Regions from separate parts of the Homo sapiens genome. Here region 2 is linked to region 1. Evidence: fine-mapped expression QTL. A gene starts in region 1. The other region holds a variant in brackets. All regions are shown on one strand. Distances are between the middles of the regions.

Region 1 (10,950 bases):
CCCAGGCTGGAGTGCAGTGGCGCCATCTCGGCTCACTGCAAGCTCTGCCTCCCGAGTTCACGCCATTCTTCTGCCTCAGCCTCCCAAGTAGCTGGGACTACAGGCACCCGCCACCACGCCTGGGTAATTTTTTGTATTTTTAGTAGAGACGGGGTTTCACCATGTTAGCCAGGATGGTCTCGATCTCCTGACCTCATGATCTGCCCGCCTCGGCCTCCCAAAGTGCTGGGATTATAGGTGTAAGCCACCGCGCCCAGCCCCTGTATTTTTAGAGACGGGGTTTCACTGTGTTAGCCAGGATGGTCTCGATCTCCTGACTTCGTGATCCGCACGCCTCGGCCTCCTAAAGTATTGGGATTACAGGCGTAAGCCACCGCGCCTGGCCTTTATACGTGGGGACCCTTGTCTTTCTGGAGCTGGGCTCTTTGTCTCGTCGCTGGAGATTGCTGACAGTCGGTGGCTACCGTCTCAAACATCTCCACGCAGAAGCTGGAGCTGGGGAACCCTGGTCTTGTCCCTCCTGCTTTTTGGGGAAGATCCTCTGGGATGTGGTCCCCAACCCCCAAGACAGAAACCTGCCTGTCTCTGATTCATTGTTACGTTCACTCTTTGCATCCAATCAATTATGGGCATTTTTTTTTCCCCTCTGAGACAGAGTCTCGCTCTGTTGCCCAAGCTGGAGTGTAGTGGTGCGATCTCAGCTCACTGCAACCTCTGCCTCTCGGGTTCAAGCGATTCTGCTGCCTCAGCCTCCTGAGTAGCTGGGATTACAGGCACATGCCACCCCGCTTGGCTAATTTTTGTATTTTTAGTAGAGATGGGGTTTCACCATGGTGGCCAGACTGGTCTCGAACACCTGACCTCAAGTGATCCACCTGCCTCGGCCTCCTAAAGTGCTGGGATTACAGGTGTGAGCCACTGTGCCCGTGCCCAGTTAGTGGTCTTAACTGATTCTTTCTCCTAAATTCCTTTTGACTCCCAGCCTTTCCTGTCCATCCTCATGGCCACTGATTCTGGACCCAGCAGCCACTTCACTGGTCTCCCTGCTTTGTGGCTGTATCTTATTTATTTGTTTAGAAACAGAGTCTGTCTCTGTTGCTCAGGCTGGAGTGCAGTGGGGCCATCACAGCTCACTGCAGCCTGGAACTCCTGGGCTCAAGTGATCTTCCCACCTCAGCTTCCCAATTAGCTGGTACTACAGGTCCATGCCACCATGCCTGGCTAACTTTTAAATGCTTTGTAGAGATGGGGTATTGCCATGTCTCCCAGGCTGGTCTCGAACATCTGGCCTCAAGTGATCCTCCCACCTCCGTCTTCCAAACTGTTGGGATTACAGGCATGAGCCATTGTTCCTGGCCCTGTGACTGTACCTTAGAAACAATCACTATTGGCCAGGTGTGGTGGCTCACGCCTATAATCCCAGCACTTTGGGAGGCTGAGGCGGGCAGATCACGAGGTCAGGAGATCGAGACCATCCTTGCTAACACGGTGAAACCCCATCTCTACTAAAAAAATAGAAAAAAATTAGCCAGGCATGGTGGCGGGCGCCTGTAGTCCCAGCTACTCGGGAGGCTGAGGCAGGAGAATGGCATGAACCTAGGAGGTGGGGCTTGCAGTGAGCCAAGATCATGCCACTGCACTCCATCCTGGGTGACAGAGCGAGACTCTGTCTCAAAAAAAAAAGAAGAGACAATCACTATTATCCTCACATGACCACCATCACCAACCAAAGGCAACCAGTGAACGTCTTCACTCTCTCTCCTACCCTTCTCAAAGACAAACAGAAACTGCTGATAACTCCAATACCATCATGACTAGCCAATGTCAGACAGGTCCCATGAGCAATTCCAGCATCAGCCTTCCTTACATTCTCCCACGATCACCACCACCACCACCACCACGCTATAATAACCAACCACCATCTAGTCATCGGCCAGGCACAGTGGCTCACACCTGTAATCTCACACTTTGGGAGGCCAAAGCGGGTGGATCACTTGAGGTTAGGAGTTGGAGACCAGCCTGGCCAACATGGCGAAACCCCGTCTCCACTAAAAGCACAAAAATTAGCTGGGTGTGGTGGCAGGTGCTTGTAATCTCAGCTACTTGGGAGGCTGAGGCACGAGAATTGCTTGAAGCCAGGAGGTGGAGGTTGCAGTGAGCCGAGATTGCACCACTGCACTCCAGCCGGGGTGACAGAGCGAGACTCTGTCTCAGAAACAAAACAAAACAAAAAAACAATACTAGCCATCAACAACCACACATAACCAACTACCATTAGCAACCACAGAAAGCAGCAGTCACCAGTCCTATCCTGTTCAAAACCCAACATTGAACCAGCACCACCATTGCTGATCATCATCTTACCAGAAACCAACAATAAACTACCAGCAGCAAATGAACGCTACTACCAACACCTTTCCTCTCCAAATAACAGCAACCACCGATGGTCATCATTCCACTGGTCACCAAGCATCTCCAGAATTTCCAGCTGAAAACAATCCACCACCAACGAACAACATTAAACACCAACCGCCACCACCACCAGCCCACCTGCAAGAGCCATTATCACCACGAACCTGCAACAAGAAACAGCCACAACCACCACCACAACCAATGACACCAACAACCCAGCAATGACCACTCGCAGCAACTCCTCCCCAATTACCACAATCGTCACCTCCGTCCATCCTCATTGCTGAATCCAGAAATGAATGGACATCCCAGCTAATGGCAGCTACCATGGATCAAGTGCATGTTATGTGCTCTGTAAAGCAATGGTCCCCAACATTTTTGGCACCAGAGACCGGTTTAATGGAAGACAATTTTTCCATGGACCATGGAGCGGGGCATTAGATTTTCTTTTCTTTCTTTTCCTTTATTTCTTCTTTTTTCCCTTTCTTTCTTTCTTTCTTTCTTTCTTTCTTTCTTTCTTTCTTTCTTTCTCTCTCTCTCTCTCTCTCTTTCTTTCTTTCTTTCTTTCTTTCTTTCTTTCTTTCTTTCTTTCTTTCCTTTCTTTCTCTTTCTTCTTTCTCTCTTTCTTTCTTTCTTCCTTTCTCTTTCTCTCTTTCTTTCTTTTTCTTTCTCTTTCTTTCTTTCTTTTTCTTTCTTTCTTTCTCTCTCTCTTTCTTTTTTTTTTGAGATGGAGCCTCTCTCTGTGGCCCAGGCTGGAGTGCAGTGGCGTGATCTCGTCTCATTGCGACCTCTGCCTCCTGGGTTCAAGTGATTCTCCTATCTCAGGTTCCCGGGTAGCTGGGGTTACAGGCGCGCACCACCACGACTGGCTAATTTTTGTATTTTTAGTAGAGACAGGGTTTTGCCATGTTGGCCAGGCTGGTCTTGAACTCTTGACCTCAGGTGATCCGCCCACCTCGGCCTCCAAAAGTGTTGAGATTACAGGCATGAGCCACTGCACCCTGCCAACGGCATTAGATTTTCTTTTTCTTTTTTTTTTTTTTTTGAGACGGAGTCTGGCTCTGTCGCCGAGGCTGTAGTGCAATGGTGTGATCTTGGCTCACTGCAACCTCCGCCTCCCGGGTTCAAGCGATTCTCCTGCCTCAGCCTCCCGAGTAGCTAGGATGACAGGCATGTGCCACCACACCCAGCTCATTTTTGTATTTTTAGGAGAGACGGGGTCTCACCACGTTGGCCAGGATCGTTTCTATCTCTTGACTTCGTGATCTGCCCGCCTCGGCCTCCCAAAGTGCTAGGATTACAGGTGTGAGCCACCGCACCCGGCCGGGCATTAGATTGTCATAAGCAGCATGCAACCTGGATCCCTCGTGTGTGCAGTTCACAACAGGGTTTGCGATCCTGTGATAATCTAATGGCGCCCCCGAGAATCTGAGAGGAGGTGGAGCTCGGGCTTGCTTGCCTGCCACTCATCTCCTGCTCTGTGACCCGATAGGGCTCATGGTTTCTAACAGACAGACCATGGCCCGATAGCAGTCCATGACCCCGGGGGTTGGGGACCCTGTTGTAAAGGACTTCAGAAATACTGTTTCATTGAATCCTTCAGCGATCTTCCTGGCATTCACCACTCCTCCAGGAAGATTTCAGCATCCCCAGACAGAGGTGGGTGTCATTTTTTTCTCTTCTATCATCCTCTGCGATACGGGTGGCCCCTCCCAGACCTTGTCTGCCAAGCCGACTGTTGACTAAGCATTTTCAGAGGGCTTCCTTGGGGAGGGGTTGCCTTTCTTTCAAGTAGCAAATCACTTCCTGTGTTCTTTTGATCAAAGCCCTGCCCATCCCAGGACCTGAGCCTCCCTGGCTTGCTTCTCATCTTGGAAGAATTCCCACCCCAACAGTCTCAGAGCTCCAGCTGATGGTTTGGGTGTGAATTCCGGGATGCCCAATTTCTCATCAGCTTTCCTTTTTTGAGACGGAGTGTGCTCTGTCACCCAGGCTGGAGTGCAGCGGCAGGATCTCAGCTCACTGCACCCTCCGCCTCCTGGGTTCAAGTTATTCTCTTGCCTCAGCCTCATATGTAGCTGGGATTACAGGCGTGTGCCACCACGCCCAGTTAATTTTTTGTATTTTTTAGTAGAGACGAGGTTTCACCACGTTGGCCAGGCTGGTCTCGAACACCTGACCTCAAGTGATCTACCTGTCTCAGCCTCCTAAAATGCTGGGATTACAGGCATGAGCCACTGTCCCTGGCCCTCACTGGCTTCCTGAAAGAAGGTGTTGTCTCTCAGACTAACACCACCTCTGCCTCTTGCCCTATGTCCCTGACTCCACCCTAGTAAGCTGTACCTGCCAAGAATCCTGCAGTGGCCGCTGTCACAGCCACATGCTCTCATCCTCACTGACTGAATGACGAGAAATGAAAGCTGAAGTGGTCTACACAGCAGAGAGCTGTGGGGTGGGGTCAGCCCTGGCCACCTCTTACTTTGCGTCTTATGGTGGTACGATACTGCTAGGAATAGCGCCATGATCACGACAGTCTCCCCGTTGCTATCATCGACAGACCTCAGACTTGACAGGCAGCAACACCTCTGGCTGCCATCCTCCTCTTGGGATAAGGGATGCCCACCAAAGGGTGGCATGGACGTATTCAGCCTCTCCTGCCTCTGCTGCAGCCATACCGCCCGTCACCGGCACAGGGAGGGCGTCAATCCACCCCATCGCTTGTTAGACATAGCTTCCCATCTCAGCCGAGGACTCTGTGGCAGAACCCACAGACCTTGAGAATGTTGCAACTGAAAGACCCCTGAAGAGCAACTTCCGCATCTAGACGGATTTCCAAATATGACATCTGTGGGAACCGGGGCCAAGAGAGGGGAAGTGACTAGCCCAAGGCTACACAGGGAGACGAGAGACTGGGCTGGACTGGGAAAGGGCTCCCTTAATTTGCAAGCAAAGGAGGCTATGTCCTTGTCCCTGCAGACTCTGTGATTCTCCCTGGGCCACCTTCTGTCTTCCAGGTCCTGCCCTATCCTTGGATCCAGGGATACCACCCTGGCATCCCCACCACCTACAGATGGGAGCTTGCTCCCTGGTAAGGGATGCTGGAGGCACCTGAGCTGCACTGAGAGACACCCCACCCCCACAGAAGTCCACCATGCCCCTCCCCTCACCCCAATTTCTGATGGTCATTTTTAGGACACCTCCACCTGGCTGGTGTCCCTCCTCTTTCTTCTTCCAGATCCCACCCTTGAAGGACTTACCATGGTGGGGGGCTGGTGTCTGGGCTCCTGGAGGCTCCTGAATGGGTCGTGATGGAGGTGCAGGTTCAGGGGGATCTTGGGGGTGGCTTGGGCATGGCCCTGCTTCTGCCCGTTCACCGGACTCCCGGCTTTAGTTCCTCTTACAACAGCCCCTTCTCACTTCCTTTGGCGGGAGGGGCCGAGGCCATGGGGGAGGGAAGCTGGGTGTGGAGGGGGGCGGGGAGCTGGCTGTTTGGGGCTCTGAGCCTGAAGGGAGGGGTCAGAACTTGATGGCAGCCACTACTGGACCTCAGAGGCCTCTTCCCCAACTCCTTGGGGACAGGGCTGCTGCAGGAACATTTGGGTCAGCTGGCTGCAGGACGAACCACCTCTTTTCAGGGCGATTCAGGAAGCATTTGGGCTTCCCGGGTCTCTTTTTAAAACCAAGGAAGGGGCCCAGGGGAGGTGGCTCACGCCTGTAATCCCAATACTTTGGGGGGCCAAGGTTGGAGGATCGCTTGAGTCCAGGAGTTTGAGACCAGCCTGGGCTATATAGCATGACCCCATCTCTACAAAAAATGAAAAGAAAAAAAATTAGCTGGGCATGGTGGCATGAGCCTGCAGTCCCAGCTACTCAGAGGGCTGAGGTGGGAGGATTGCTTGAACCTGGGAGGTGGAGGCCTCAGTGAGCCCTGATTGCGCCACTGCACTCCAGCCTGGGCGAAAGAGTGAGACCCTGTCTCTAAAAACAAACCAGAAAAAACAAAAAAACCAAAAAAACAACAACAACAGGGAAGGGTGCCTTCTTCAGCTGTGTCTGCTCTGGGCATCCCTGGGCAACCTCCTTCATTATTATTATTGTTATTATTTTGAGACGGAGTCTAGCTCTGTCACCCAGGCTAGAATGCAGTGGTGCAATCTCAGCTTACTTTAATCTCCGCCTCCTGGGTTCAAGCGATTCTCCTGCCTCAGCCTCCTGAGTAGCTGGGATTACAGGTGCCCACCGCCACACCTGGCTAATATTTGTATTTTTAGTAGAGACGGAATTTCGCCATGTTGGCCAGGCCGGCCTTGAACTCCTGACCTCAGGTGATCCTCCCAACTCGGCCTCCCAAAGTGCTGGGATTACAGGCATAAGCCACCACGCCTGGCCCAACCTCCCTCTTTAGATGACCCTCAGAAGTCACACGTGTTTGTGTGCAGAAGTGGAGGGTACTGGGAAGCAGGTGCATCTGAAAGGTCCCTGACTTTGGATGTCACATCTAGATTTAACAGCCTCCAGTTTGGCTACTTCCTGGATGACTTAGTTACTCCCTTTTCTCATTGTAAAATGGGAACGTGGGTCCCCCCAGCAGAGCCTGGCCCAGGTACGTGTCAGCCTATGAGCTGGTCTTTGGGACACCAGCCAACCACCTGAGGCTCCTCTTGACATGTGAGGAAATGGCAGTTCTAATAGGTTGTTACTTCCCCACACCACCCAGCAAGGAGGTGGCCGAGGCAGGACCCGACCCTGGGAGACCCTGGGGGACCCATGTTCAGATCTATCTTTGGTCCAGGGCGATAAACCCGCATCCCCCTTGAAGATGTTAATATGCAGCGCCCCTAGTGGCCACAGCTGGGAAGGAGCCCGTCTCTGCTGGAATCTCCTGAGCGAGTTTGCAGAATTGACGGGCTTGGGGCATGCAATTCTCAGCAATGTCTCCAGGCACTCAAGAGTGAATATGAATGGGTAAGAGGACCCCACTTTGTTGGGGGCCATCAGGGGAGGCTTCTAGGAAGAGGCAACGTTTGTGCTGACACCGGCGAGTAAGCTGGAGTTAAAAAAGGTAAAGGGGCAGGAGCGTGCACCTGGCCATGCTAAGCGCTCAAGCAAAGGCCCAGATATGGGAAAACCATAGGGCAATTGAGGAAGTTCGGGGAGGCTGGTGTGGCTGGAGCATGCGGAGTGACGGAGAGTGTGATGGCCAGGGTGGCAGGTGCTAGACCGTGTGGCTTTAAGAGCCTCTGTGAGGGCCAGGCATGGTGGCTGATGCCTGTAATCCCAGAACTTTGGGAGGCTGAGGTGGGAGGATCGCTTGAGCCCAGGAGTTCCAGACCAGCTTGGGCAACATAGCAAGACCTCGTCTCTACAAAAAATTAAAAAATCAGCTAGGTGTGCTGTTGCACCTATAATCTCAGTTACTTGGCAGGGTAGGCAGGAGAATCGTTTAAGCCCAGGAGTTCAAGGCTGCAGTGAGCTGAGATCGTGCCACTGAACTCCAGCCTGGGCTACAGAGTGAGACCCTGTCTCAAAAAACAAAAACAAAAAAGCAAAACCCTTCCACGAGAAGCTGTTGTACTTTTCTCCTAAAATCCCTGGGTTCCTGTCTGCAATGTTAAAAGTCCCCTTCTGGCTGGGCACGGTGGCCCATGCCTGTAATCCCAGCACTCTGGGAGGCCGAGGCGGGCAGATCACGAGGTCAGGAGATCGAGACCATCCTGGCTAACACGGTGAAACCCCGTCTCTACTAAAAAAGTACAAAAAATTAGCTGGGCATGTTGGCGGGCGCCTGTAGTGCCAGCTACTCGGGAGGCTGAGGCGAGAATGGCATGAACCCAGGAGGCGGAGCTTGCAGTGAGCCGAGATCGTGCCACTGCACTCCAGCCTGGGCAACAGTGCAAGACTCCGTCTCAAAAAAAAAAAAAAATAAAAAAAAAAAATAAATAAATCAGCTGGGTGTGGTCGTGCACGCCTGTAGTCCCAGCTATTCAGAAGGTGGAAGTGGGAGGATCACTTGAGTCCAGGAGATCAAGGCTGCAGTGAGCTATGATAGGCATAGCTGGGCGACAGGGACCGTCTCAGGAAAAAAAAAAAAGAAGTCCCCTTTTGGCTGTTGGGTAGACCTGGGAGAATGGGTGGTCCTTTCCAGACCTGGGTGGGGGCTACTGGATGCACTGACACACACACACCGCAATTCGTAGAAATCTACACAAGACAGAACTTTATTGATGTAGGGCTTCCTGGCAGGAGTGTGTGGGCCCCAGGGCAGGGTCTGTAGCACCATGAGGGGGTGGCCTGGATGTCGGGGTGCCCCTGGGGCGGGCAGGGCAGAGGTTGGGGTGGATCCTCCCCCTAGTCAGGTCAGGGGAGGGTGTCAGGGAGGTGGTGCTACCCCCCCCCCTCCCATAGCAGACACAGATTCCCCCCCAGCTCGGAGTGGAGGGGTAGGGCAGTGCTGGGGGGCAGGGCACCGGCAGACCACCTCCCCACCCCTACTCTTCACAGTACATATTCCGATCAAAGGAGGGGGGGAGTGTTGGGGACTCCCTAAGGGTGGGTTCAAAGGGTGCTGGGGTGAACAGCTGTCCCCTCCCCAGACCCACCCTGGAGGGGGGGTCTCACTATGTGAACTGGAAGGGGCGGATGCTGAAGAGGGGCTCTGGGGGGATAGCCAGCCCCTCTCCATCCCCCCAGCCAGGGCCCTGCAGGGGTTCCCAATAAATAACTTCCGGCTCCGTCTCACCCTTCCCTCCCAGTTCCCGCCCCCCCGGGGCCCCCTCTGGCCGGCCCGCTGCAGGGCTGGCGGCGGAGACCCCGCCAGCTGTGGCTCCGGGTGCCGCGCGCCCCCTAGTGGCCATGGCAGGTTTTGCAGCACATCTGGCGGAAGTAGGCTCGGCTGCAGAACTGAAATTTGAGCACCAGGGGGCAGTAGGCGACCTTGTTCACATCCTTGCACTCTGCGGGGACGGGAGAAGGAAGGAAAAATCAGGTCTCAGCTGCCCTCCCCGCAGGGCTGCACACACGACCTGCAGTGCTTCCTGGCCAGTGACTTTCTGTGCCTTGGTTTCTTTCTTTTTAAATTTACTTTTTTTTTTTTTTTTTTTTTTTTTTTTTACAGATGTTATCTTGCTATGTTGACCAGGCTGGTCTCCACCTCTTGAGCTCAAGTGATCCTCTCACCTCAGCCTCCTAAGTAGTTGGGACTACAGGTGTGAGCAAACCACGCCTGACTTCTGTGCCTTAGTTTCCTCAACTATCAAAGGGGGCTTATAATAGCACCGATGTCACTAGGCTGTTTTGAGGATTTAAGAGAGAGAGTGTAGGGTTGGGGGCCAACACAGACACATTAGTAATGAGAAAAGGGCCGGGTACAGTGTATCATGCCTGTAATCCCAGCACTTTGGGAGACCAAGGCAGGAGGACTGCTTGAGCCCAGGAGTTTGAGACCAGCCTGGGCAACATAGTGAGAGCACTGCATCTACAAAAACTAATTAAAAGAAAAAAATAGGCTGGGCATGGTGGCTCATGCCTGTAATCTCAGCACTTTGGGAGGCCGAGGCAGGTGGATCACTTCAGGTCGGGAGTTTGAAACCAGCCTGGCCAACGTGATCAAACCCCATCTCTACTAAAAATATAAAAATTAGCTGGGCGTGGTGGCGGGTGCCTGTAATCCCAGCTACTCGACAGCCTGAGGCAGGAGAATTGCCTGAACCCGGGAGGCAGAGGTTTCAGTGAGCCGCGATTGCACCACTGTACTCCAGCCTGGGAGACAGAGCGAGACTCTGTCACAAAACAAAACAAAAAAACAAAAAAACAAAAAAAAAAAAAAGGAAAAATTAGCCGGGTGTTGTGGCATGTGCCTGTAGTCCCAGCTACTCAAGAGGCTGAGGCTGGAGGATCGCTTGAGCCCAGGAGGTGGAGGCTGCAGTGAGCTATGATGGCACCACTGCACTCTAGCCTGGGCGACAGAGCGAGACCCTGTCAAACAAACAAACAAACAAACAAACAAACACGACCCAATAAAACAAAAGAAGACAAATATTCCCTTTCCTTTCCATTGTTCCTTTTCATAGCACCCAGGAAAAAATGTCCATTTGGGGCTGTAATCCTCACTCGTTTTCTTTTTTAATAAAGTGAAGATAGGCCGGGCATGGTGGCTCACGCCTGTAATCACAGCACTTTGGGAGGCTGAGTCGGGCGGATCATGAGGTCAGGAGATCGAGACCATCCTGGCTAACATGGTGAAACCCCGTCTCTACTAAAAATACAAAAATTAGCCGGGCGTGGTGGCAGGCGCCTGTAGTCCCAGCTATTCAGGAGGCTGAGGCAGGAGAATGGCGTGAACCTGGGAGGTGGAGCTTGCAGTGAGCGGAGATTGCATCACTGCATTCCAGCCTGGGCGACAGTGAGACTCCGTCTCAAAACAAAGCAAAACAAAAACAAACAAAACAAAACCTGAAGCTCTTGAGTCCCAGCTGAGTGGGTGAGTCAGGGTATTTTTCAGAACATTGACTATTTTGTGTGATCATGATGTCTGTTGAT
Region 2 (10,158 bases), 53 kb before region 1:
TCCGCCTCCCAGGTTCAAGCAATTCTGCTGCCTCAGCCTCCCGAGTAGCTGGGACCACGGGCGCGCACCATCACGCCCGGCTAATTTTTTGTATTTTTAGCAGAGATGGGGTTTCACTGTGTTAGCCAGGATGGTCTCGATCTCCTGACCTTATGATCTGCCCGCCTTGGCCTCCCAAAGTGCTGGGATTACAAGTGTGACCCACCGTGCCCGGCCAATTTTAAAATTTTTTTGTAGAGACAGGGTATTAGTAGGTTGCCTAGGGTGGTCAAACCTTAAGTGATCCTCCTGCCTTGGCCTCCCAAAGTGCTGGGATTACAGCTGTGAGGCACCATGCTTGGCCAGGATTTGGTTTATTTTAGTATTAGAGACAGGGTCTTGCTGAGTTGCCCAGGCTGGAGTGCAGTGACGCGATCATAGCTCACTTCAGCCTTGAACTCCCGGGATCAAGTGATCCTCCAGCCTCGGCCTCACAAAGTGCTGGGACTACAGGCATGCACCACCACTCCCAAAATTCAGGAATTTTTTTTTTTTTTTGAGACAGAGTCTCACTCTATTGCTCAGACTGGAATTCCATGGTGCAGTCTTGGCTCACTGCAGCCTCCACCTCCTGCCTCAGCCTCTCAAGTATCAGGGACTACAGGCACGTGCCACCATGCCCAGCTAATTTTTGTATTTTTAGTAGAGACAGGGTTTCACCATGTTGGTGAGGCTGGTCTGGAACTCCTGACCTCAGATGATCCGCCCGCCTTGGCCTCCCAAAGTGCTGGGATTACAGGCATGAGCCACTGCGCCCAGCCCAAAATTCAGGATCTTTAGGCTCAGACCATAGCAGGACTCCAGTCTTAGTCCCAGTTAGGTGAAGACTAAGAGGGCACAGAAATGGGATTGGGGTGCAGGGGGCAGGAGTGACCCAGAGTGCATTGAGGGTGGGAGCATGTGGCATGTGGGACCTGCCTCTCTCCATAGGTCCCAGATGGGTTTGGCGGCTGTAGCTTCAAGACTAACAGGACCTGCTGGACCATTTGGGATGCAGATTTTGGAAGGGAAACTGAGACAAATTCTTTATTTTCTTTTCTTTCTTTTTTTTTTTTTTGAGATGGAGTCTCGCTCTGTTGCCCAGGCTGGAGGGCAGTGGCGCAATCTCGGCTCACTGCAAGCTCCTTCTCCCAGGTTCATGCCATTTTCCTGCCTCAGCCTCCCGAGCAGCTGGGACTACAGGCGCCCGCCACCACGCCCGGCTACTTTTTTGTATTTTTAGTAGAGACAAGGTTTCCCCATGTTAGCCAGGATGGTCTCGATCTCCTGACCTTGTGATCTGCCCGCCTCGGCCTCCCAAAGTGCTAGGATTACAGGTGTGAGGCACCGCGCCCACCTCCTCCCTCCCTCCCTCCCTTCCTTCCTTTCTTTTTTTCTGAGACAGGGTCTTGCTCTGTTGCCCAGGCTGGAGTGCAGTGGCATGATCTCGGCTCACGGCAGCCTCTGCCTCCCGGGTTCAAGTGATTCTCCTGCTTCAGCCTTCCCAGTAGCTGGGATTACAGGCAGGCACCACCACACCCGGCTTTTTTTTTTTTCTTTTTTAAATTTTTAGTAGAAACAGGGTTTTGCTGTGTTATCCAGGCTGGTCTTGAACTCCTGGTCTCACGTGATCTGCCCGCCTCAGCCTCCCAAAGTGCTGGGATTACAGGCGTGAGCCACTGCGCCCAGCCCAAACTGGGACAAATTCAAGCTTTATGGTCACATATGAATGCAAGGCATGGCTCTGTGCAGTCTTGGGTCAGTGAACCTCTCTGAACCTCCATTGTTCCACCTGTAAGATGGGGTCCTTCACAGCTCCTACCTCACAGGGCTGTGAAAACATCGTCCTTGTTGGGCACTTAGTAAGTTAACTCGTGCTTTCACCTGGCAAAGGTTTATTGCCTTAGTGATGACAGAATGAGCAAAGTCACGCTTGTTAAGGACCCCCCCCTCCCCAACTGTGCCTGGCACTTTGCCAACAGCACAGGACTCAAGACCCATTTCTTAATCACATGGCAGTTGGGAGGTAGATTCTGCTGTTAGTCCCCTTTGACACACACAGAAATGGAGAATGGGCAGCAGGTGTGATGTTGGAGGAAGACCAGGGCCCAGGGGCGGGGGCTGCAGCAGTGACCTGGTGACCCAGGGCCTGGGCAGGACTGGAGGCCAAAGGACTGGACTTTTAGGCTATTGCAGCCCAGGTAAACGAGGCTCTCATTGGCAGGGCCTGGCTCCCCACCAGGCCGGCAGGCAGATAGGCGGGCGAAAGAGAAGGCAGTATCCCAGGGCCCAGCTCAGATCTTCTCCACGTAGTTTCCTGGGAAAAGGCCCTCCTGGCCGTGAAGCCGGCCCTTCCACCAGCCCGAGGGATCTGTGGGAGAGAGGAAAGCTTGAGGTGCCCCTAGCTGGCCCTGGAGAAAGCTCTCATGCCTGGTCTGTCCATCTTGTTCATGGGGACTCCCTATGTTGTCCAGGCTGGTCTTAAACTCCTAGGCTTAAGCCATCCTCCTGCCTCAGCCTCCCAAAGTGCTGGAATTACAGGTGTGAGCCACTGCATCCGGCCATTTCTACTCTTTAAAAGTTTTTTTTTTGTAAATCTTTTGTAGAGATGGGGTCTTGCTAGGTTGCCCAGGCTTGTCTCAAACTCCTGACCTCAAGTGATCCTCCTGCCTCAGCCACTGAAAGTGCTGGGATTACAGGTATGAGCCACCTCGCCCATCTGTTATCTCTGTTCTCCCGTGGGGAGGGTGTGCAGTGGTGGGGTCTGCCTGGCAATGTCAGTCAGGGTTCTTTTTTTTTTTTTTTTTGAGACGGAGTCTCGCTCTATCGCCCAGGCTGGAGTGTGTTGGCGCAATCTCGGCTCACTGCAAGCTCCGCCTCCCGGGTTCATGCCATTCTCCTGCCTCAGCCTCCCGAGTAGCTGGGACTACAGGCGCCCGCCACCACGCCCGGCTAATTTTTTGTATTTTTAGTAGAGACGGGGTTTCACTGTGTTAGCCAGGATGGTCTCGATCTCCTGACCTCGTGATCTGCCCGCCTTGGCCTCCCAAAATGCTGGGATTACAGGCGTGAGCCACCGCGCCCGGCCGATGTCAGGGTTCTTACCACTCCCCTCACCCCAGCTTCTGCCCTGGTACACACACCTTCCATGAGGATCTCAATGACCTCGTTCACGTTGAAGCTCAGCTCGTCCACATCTTGGCCCACGTACTGGTATAGGGCCCGGCACCTGGGACCATGTGTCCGAGGCTGGGGCTTGGGTCGGCCCACACCAGGCACTGGCCGTTGCCCCACGCTGCGCTTCCTCTGCATGCTGTGGGCACAGGGGGTTTGAGTCACAGCCCCAGACACTCCCCTACCCCCTGCCCACCTCCTGGAGCTGCCCTCCCACCCCACCTACCCGGCCATGCCCTGGTCAGGCACGTTGAGGAATTCTGTGTTGTGCTCTGAGGGCGGACGTGCCCGGGGTCGTCTGCTGGCTCCCAGGGATGTGGACGGAGGGCCCCGGGGAGGCCTGTGGGTGCCCCCTCCAGACATGATCTCCAGGGGCAGGGGGCCCCCTCTGGCAGAGGGGGGCACCCCATTGCGATCCATGCCTGTGGCAGGAGCAAGGATGAAGACATGTATTAGGGTGATGCTAGGAGGATTTGAGGAGGACTTGGCTTCAAGTTCTCAGGCTGAGGGAGGAGACTGCGACACTCTCAACCCAGTGTGGTAAGGATTGGGCCAGACGGAGGGACTCTGCCGCTAGGAGGGCCTAGACAGAAGCTTTTTTAAGCATAATTTTAAAATTATTTTTTA[CT/C]TTTTTTTTTTTTTGAGATGGAGTCTTGCTCAGTCGCTCAGGCTGGAGTGCAGTGGCGCGATCTCGGCTCACTGCAAGCTCCGCCTCCTGGGTTCACGCCATTCTCCTGCCTCAGCCTCCCGAGTAGCTGGGACTACAGGCACCTGCCACCACGCCTGGATAATTTTTTAAATATTTTTAGTAGAGACGGAGTTTCATCATGTTAGCCAGGATGGTCTCGATCTCCTGACCTTGTGATCCGCCCGCCTTGGCCTCCCAAAGTGCTGGGATTACAGGCATGAGCCACCGCGCCTGGCCAATTATTTTTTACTTTTATTTGTTTATTTTGAGACATGGTCTCACTCTCGCCCAGGTTGGAGTGCAGTGGTACAATCGTAGCTCACTGCAACTCTGACCTCCTGGGCTCAAGCAATCCTCCCTCCTTAGCCTCCTTTTAAGGGGAGCTGGGACTACAGGTATGCTCCACTATGCCCAGTTGATTTTTATAATTTTTAAAGTAGAGATGGGGTCTCACTATGTTGCTCAGGCTGGTCTCAAACTCCTGGCCTCAAGCAATCCTCCCACTTCGGCCTCCCAACATGCTGGTTTTACAGGCATGAGCCACTGTACTTGGCCTTATTTATTTTTTATTTGTTTAGAGACAGGGTTTTGCTCTGTGGCCCAGGATGGAGTGCAGCAGTGAGATCATAGCTCACTGCAGACTCCAACTCTTAGGCTCATGATATTCTCCCCTCTCAGCCTCCTAAATAGCTGGGACTATAGGCACACACCACCATGCCCAGCTAATTTAAAAAGAATTTTTAGGCTAGGCGCGGTGGCTCACGCCTGTAATCCTAGCACTTTGGGAGGCTAAGGTGGGCTGATCACGAGGTCTGGAGTTTGAGACAAGCCTGGCCAACATAGTGAAACTCTGCCTCTACTAAAAATACAAAAATTAGCCAGGCATGATGGCGTGTGCCTGTAGTCCCAGCTACTCGGGAGGCTGAGGCAGGAGAATTGCTTCAACCTGGGAGGTGGAGGTTACAGTGAGCCAAGATCACGCCACTGCACTCCAGCCTGGGCAACAGAGCAAGACACCGTCTCAAAAAAAAAAAAAAAAAAAAGGCCGGGCGCGGTGGCTCACACCTGTAATCCCAGCAGTTTGGGAGGCCGAGGCGGGTGGATCACGAGGTCAGGAGTTCCAGACCAGTCTGGCCAACATGGTGAAACCTTGTCTCTACTAAAGATAAAATTAGCTGGGCATGGTGGTGCATGCCTGTAATCCCAGCTACTGGGGAGGCTGAGGCAGGAGAATCTCTTGAACCCAGAAGGTGGAAAGTTGCAGTGCGCTGAGACCGCACCATTGCACCCCAGCCTGGGCAACAGGGCTAGACTCTGTCTCAAAAAAAAAAAAAAAAAAAAAATCTAGGCGTGGTAGCACACGCCTGTAGTCCCAGCTACTCAGGGGGCTGAGGCAGGAGAATCGCTTGAACCCAGGAGGTGGATGTTGCAGTGAGCCAAGATCATGCCACTGCACTCCAGCCTGGGTGACAGAGCGAGACTGTCTCAAAAAAAAAAAAAAAAAGAAAGAATTTTTGGTAGAGACAGGATCTTGCTATGTTGCCCAGGCTGATCTTGAACTCAAGTGATCCTCCTGCCTTGGCCTACCAAGAGTGCTTGGATTACAGGTGTGAGCCATCTTGCCTGGCCAGGAGTGGCTTTGCAGGGGCAAGTTTCCCTCCTCCTATCCTCTGTAGGAGAGCTTCTGTGGGTACGTCTTGGTGGATAAATAAGAGCTCAACGAATGGAATGGGAATTTGAGAGAGAAGCAGAGAAAACGGCCCAAAGGCCTGGAGGTAAGAATAAATTTTGTGAATTGGGAAAATAAGATGTAGTTTGAGGCCAGGCGCCGTAGCTCATGCTTGTTAATCCCAGCACTTTCGGAGGCCGAGACGGGCGGGTCACCTGAGGTCAGGAGTTCGAGACCAGCCTGAACAACGTGGTGAAACCCTGTCTCTACTAAAACGATACAAAAATTAGCCGGGCGTGGTGGCGGGTGCCTGTAATCTCAGCTACTCGGGAGGCTGAGGCAGGAGAATCGCTTGAATCCAGGAGGTGAAGGTTGCAGTGAACCGAGATCGCTCCACTGCACCCCAGCCTGGGAGACAGAGTTGGACTCCATCTCAAAAAAAAAAAAAAAAAAAAAAAGATGTAGTTTACAGGGCAGGAGTGTAGGGTAGGAGGAGAGAAGATGTCAGTGGTTAGCTGGGTTTGGGTTTTGAAGGGCTCTGAATGCCAAACTAAGTTTAGCCTTTATTCTGCGGGAGATGTGGAGCTACGGAGAGTCCTGGACAGAGAAGTGAGTGGTAAACTGTGTTTGTTAGATTTCGTTTGCTGAAGGTCTGGCTTAGGCCATGGGACCCACAACAGACAAGGGAATATAGCAAGGGACGCAGCTCCTCACCTCTGGGGGGCGCAGGGGCCGCCCGGGTAGGGGCTTGGGACGACCTCCGAGGTTTTCCCTTGGCCATTCCCTTCCGCGTAGGCTCTGAAAGAAGAGTGTCAGGGAGTTGAATGACAGACAGACCACGCTCTTTGCCCCGCCCACAAATCTAGTCCATTCTGAGGCTCCGCCGCACCCCGCCCCCTCAGGCTCTCCCATTAGCACCGCCCCTTAGGTACAGTTACACTGGCTCCGCCCACTAATTGGCCTCGCCCCCCAAGGGCCCAACACCTCACTGGCCTTGCTCTTTGGGCCCGCCCACTTTAGGTCACTCCTTCATCACTACCCAGTTCCAGGGTTGCCGCTCTGGCCGCACCCCTCTACATTTCTCGCCCCCGCATTGGTCATGTCTTCTCCTTAACAGTCTTTCTCTCTCTCTAGACCCGCCCCTTCCTTGCTGTTGCCCTCTCTGGTCCAGCCTGCTGGCCCCGCCCCACTATTTTGATTGGTTTCCTCCATGGCCACGTCCCTCCTCCACATTTCACGCCCACTAATTGGTTGCGGCCTTTGTTTAAAAGTCTGTCTCTCTGGCCGGGCGCAGTGGCTCACGCCTGTAATCCCAGCACTTTGGGAGGCCGAGGCGGGTGGAGCATGAGGTAATGAGTTCAAGACCAGCCTGGCCAAGATGGTGAAACCCCGTCTCTACTAAAACTACAAAAATTAGCTGGGCGCGGTGGCAGGCGCCTGTAATCCCAGCTACTCGGGAGGCTGAGGCAAGACAATCGCTTGAACCCGGGTGGCGGAGGTTGCGGTGAGCCAAGATCGTGCCACAACACTCCAGCCTGGGCGACAGAGTGAGACTCCGTCTTAAAAAAACCACAAAACTCAAAAGTCTCTCTCTCTCTCTCTGTAGACACTCCCCTTCCTGGCCTTCGTCCACTCTTAACCAGCCTCGCTGGCCCCGCCCCCTCTGCCCTAGTTCCGCGCAGACTCACTGGAGCTCTTGGGCAGCCCATCGCCCACGCTGACCGTGAGGGTCCGACCGCCAACCTTGAGCACTGCCAAGTCGCCGAAGCCGCGGGAGAAGGTGACGCTGCGGGTGCCGCCACCGCCCCAGCCCTCCTTCTTCACCCGAAACTGTAGTCTATGGGGAGAGAAGAAAGCTTGGGGGCGCTGGCTGAGGTCCCCCGCCCCACCCAACTCTCGCTGGTTGGGGCAGGGGCGGGGCCGCGGCCGGGGCCGAAGCGCAGTTCGGCCGGGTCGGTGGGGCGGGAGAGGGTGCGCCGCGCCGAGACCACCCCGAGATGGTGCTGGGGTTGGCGGGGCCGTACGTGTCGCTGAAGGTGAGGGGCAGGGGCCTCCGCGTCGCCTCCTCGAAGCGCTTGCACAGAAGGCTGACAAACTCGGTCTTGAAGACGCTCTCCAGGAAGCTGTCGGCGGCATCCTCTTGGAGGATGAAGAAGTCGTCCTGTCGCGTGCTGGGGAGGGGCGGGTGAGAGCGTCAGGTGGGACACAGGTGAGGGCGACAGGTGAGAGAGACAGATGAAGGTGGCTGAAGGTGGATTTAGGGAAGGGTCAGCTAAGGGCCAAGTCAGCGGTGACCAGGTAGGAGAAAAAGGGGGATGTGGCAAGGAGTGGAAGAGGTGGTTACAGAAGAGGGCCAGGTGAGGTCTAGTAAGAGGGTAAGGTGCAGGACGGAAGGATTTGGCATCTAAGGATCATGAGCATAGGGGGCAGGTGAACATGACAGGTGGGGCCAACAGAGGGCTACAGGCATGGCACCAGGTAAGATTGTCAGGGTAACAGACGGGGTCACTAGAATGAGGGCAGCCAGGGGACAGGTGAGAGTGACTGTGCGGCAGGTAAGGACCTGGCTTCACCTGAGGGAGACTCCCCGCAGAGCCTGGATGTCCACTTTCTTCTTCAAGACTTCACACACCTGGCCCTTCTCAGGTCCCTTCTTCACTTTCTCTCGCCCAATCACATACACACACTTGGGCGTCAGGATCAAGTCCCGCTTGATGGGCTGTGGGGATGCAGGATTAGAGGCTGATGCCTGTAGCCTGGCCAGCCTGGCCACAGAGGATCCACCCCAGGCAGAGGGGTGGTGCTGGCAGGTCAGGTGAGGAAGGTGGGAGCCCTCCAGGTGAAGGTGTATGAGTCGTCTGTTTTGTAGACAGGGTCTCACTCTGTCGCTCAGGCTGGAGTGCAGTGGTGCCATCATAGCTCACTGCAACCTCCCCCTCCTGGGCTTGAGTGATCCACCTGCCTCAGCCTCCTGAGTAGCTGGGACCACAGGTGCGCACCACCATGCCCAGCTAATTTTGGTATTTTTTGTAGATTCAGGGTTTTGCCCTGTTGCCCAGGCTGGTCTTGAGCTCCTGATCTCAAGCAAACTGTCCTCCTTGGCCTCCCAAAGGGTTGGGATTACAGGTGTGCGCCACCACGCCTGGCCATGAGTTGTTATATAAGAAACAGAAGGAGGGCTGGGTGCCATGGCTCACGCCTGTAATCCCAGCATTTTGGGAGGCCGAGGCGGGCAGATCATGAGGTCAGGAGTTTGAAACCAGGCTGACCAACATGGTGAAACCCCGTCTCTACTAAAAATACAAAAATTAGCTGGGCGAGGTGGTGGGCACCTGTAGTCCCAGCTACTCAGGAGGCTGAGACAGGAGAATCGCTTGAACCCAGGAGGATGAGGTTGCAGTGAGCCGAGATCCTGCCACTGCACTCCAGCCTGGGTGACAGAGCAAGACCCTGTCTCAAAAACAAACAAACAAAAAATAACAGATCAGGCGCGGTGGCACACGCCTGTAATCCCAGCACTTTGGGAGGCTGAGGTGGGTGGATCACAAGGTCAGAAGATTGAGACCATCCTGGCTAATACCATGAAACCCCATCTCTACTAAAAATACAAAAAACTAGCTGGGCGTGGTGGCACATGCCTGTAGTCCCAGCTACTCGGGAGGCTGAGGCAGGAGAATTGCTTGAGCCTGGGAGGCAGAGGTTGCAGTGAGCCGAGGTTGTGCCACTGCACTCCAGCCTGGGCGACATAACAAGATTCTGACTCAACACACACACACAAAAGAGCAAAACTCTGTCTCAAAAAAACAAAAAAGAAAAACAAAAAAGAAACGAGGTCAGATGGGAATGTGTTGGTTGGTTGGTTGGCTAGAAAAGGGTGTTTGGGTCAGTGAACAGGTGCTGGGTAGGTAAGGCACCTGCTGGACATGGGTTCCCGGGCCAGATGAGAACACTTAGACCAGGTGAAAGTACTTGGGTCATGTGACTGTAGCCAGCTCAGGTAAAGGTATTATGGTTCAGGTGAGGGTGTACAAGTCAGGTAAATAGGAGTATCTGGATCATGAGAGGAAGTGAGCGGGTGTGTATCTGAACTCTATGAGTTTGTACAGGAAGGCAGGTGAGGGTGTACCTGGTAGAAGGGTGAATGTGCAAGCCGGTTGAGCTGGCCTGCGGTCAGAGTTCTCTGGGTCTAGTGGGGATACCTGTCTCAGTGAAAACATTTAAGGTGATGGTATACAGGTCACCTGAGAGGGCATACCTGCCACACAGACCTGTCCAAAGCAGGTGGGTGGATCAGGTGAAGGTACCCAATAATGTGTGTCTGGTATGTGAAGTTGTACAGATCATGTGAGGAGGCACCTGCCACATAAACTTGTCCAAGGTAGGTGAGGGTGTCCAGGCCATATGAGACTATCCATCCAGGTAAAGATGGTATATAGGTGATCTCAGTGTGTACCTGCCACACATAGGCCTCTCTAAGGTGAGGGTAGGGTGAGTTACTGGGCTAGGTGACTCTCTGGGACATGAGATATGGGTCAAGTGAGTGTGTACCTGGCCCGCCCAGGTACAGGTGACGGTAAACAGGCCAAGTCTGGGTGTACCTGTGGACAGG

What was found.
Region 2: its variant is fine-mapped to the expression of MYO1F in whole blood (INTERVAL, PIP above 0.99).

The regions. Positions count from the first base shown.
Region 1 is chr19:8,571,638-8,582,587 of GRCh38, forward strand. It overlaps MYO1F (myosin IF), which reads right to left and starts at 5,805. Exons shown (of 28, transcript NM_012335.4): 1 at 5,670-5,805. The coding sequence starts at 5,672. It overlaps ADAMTS10 (ADAM metallopeptidase with thrombospondin type 1 motif 10), which reads right to left. Exons shown (of 26, transcript NM_030957.4): 26 at 8,603-9,365. The coding sequence ends at 9,256. RefSeq lists enhancers at 4,250-4,309, 4,650-4,709, 4,880-5,059 and silencers at 5,180-5,229, 5,767-5,916, 7,137-7,331, 9,143-9,192.
Region 2 is chr19:8,519,216-8,529,373 of GRCh38, forward strand. It overlaps MYO1F (myosin IF), which reads right to left. Exons shown (of 28, transcript NM_012335.4): 22 at 8,123-8,268; 23 at 7,574-7,720; 24 at 7,238-7,386; 25 at 6,264-6,347; 26 at 3,419-3,614; 27 at 3,162-3,331; 28 at 1,563-2,389. The coding sequence ends at 2,313. It overlaps LOC124904633 (a long non-coding RNA gene), which reads left to right and starts at 7,230. Exons shown (of 3, transcript XR_007067131.1): 1 at 7,230-7,329. RefSeq lists enhancers at 3,462-3,961, 6,538-7,513 and a silencer at 6,418-6,497. The variant CT/C (reference allele first, on the strand shown) is at 3,820.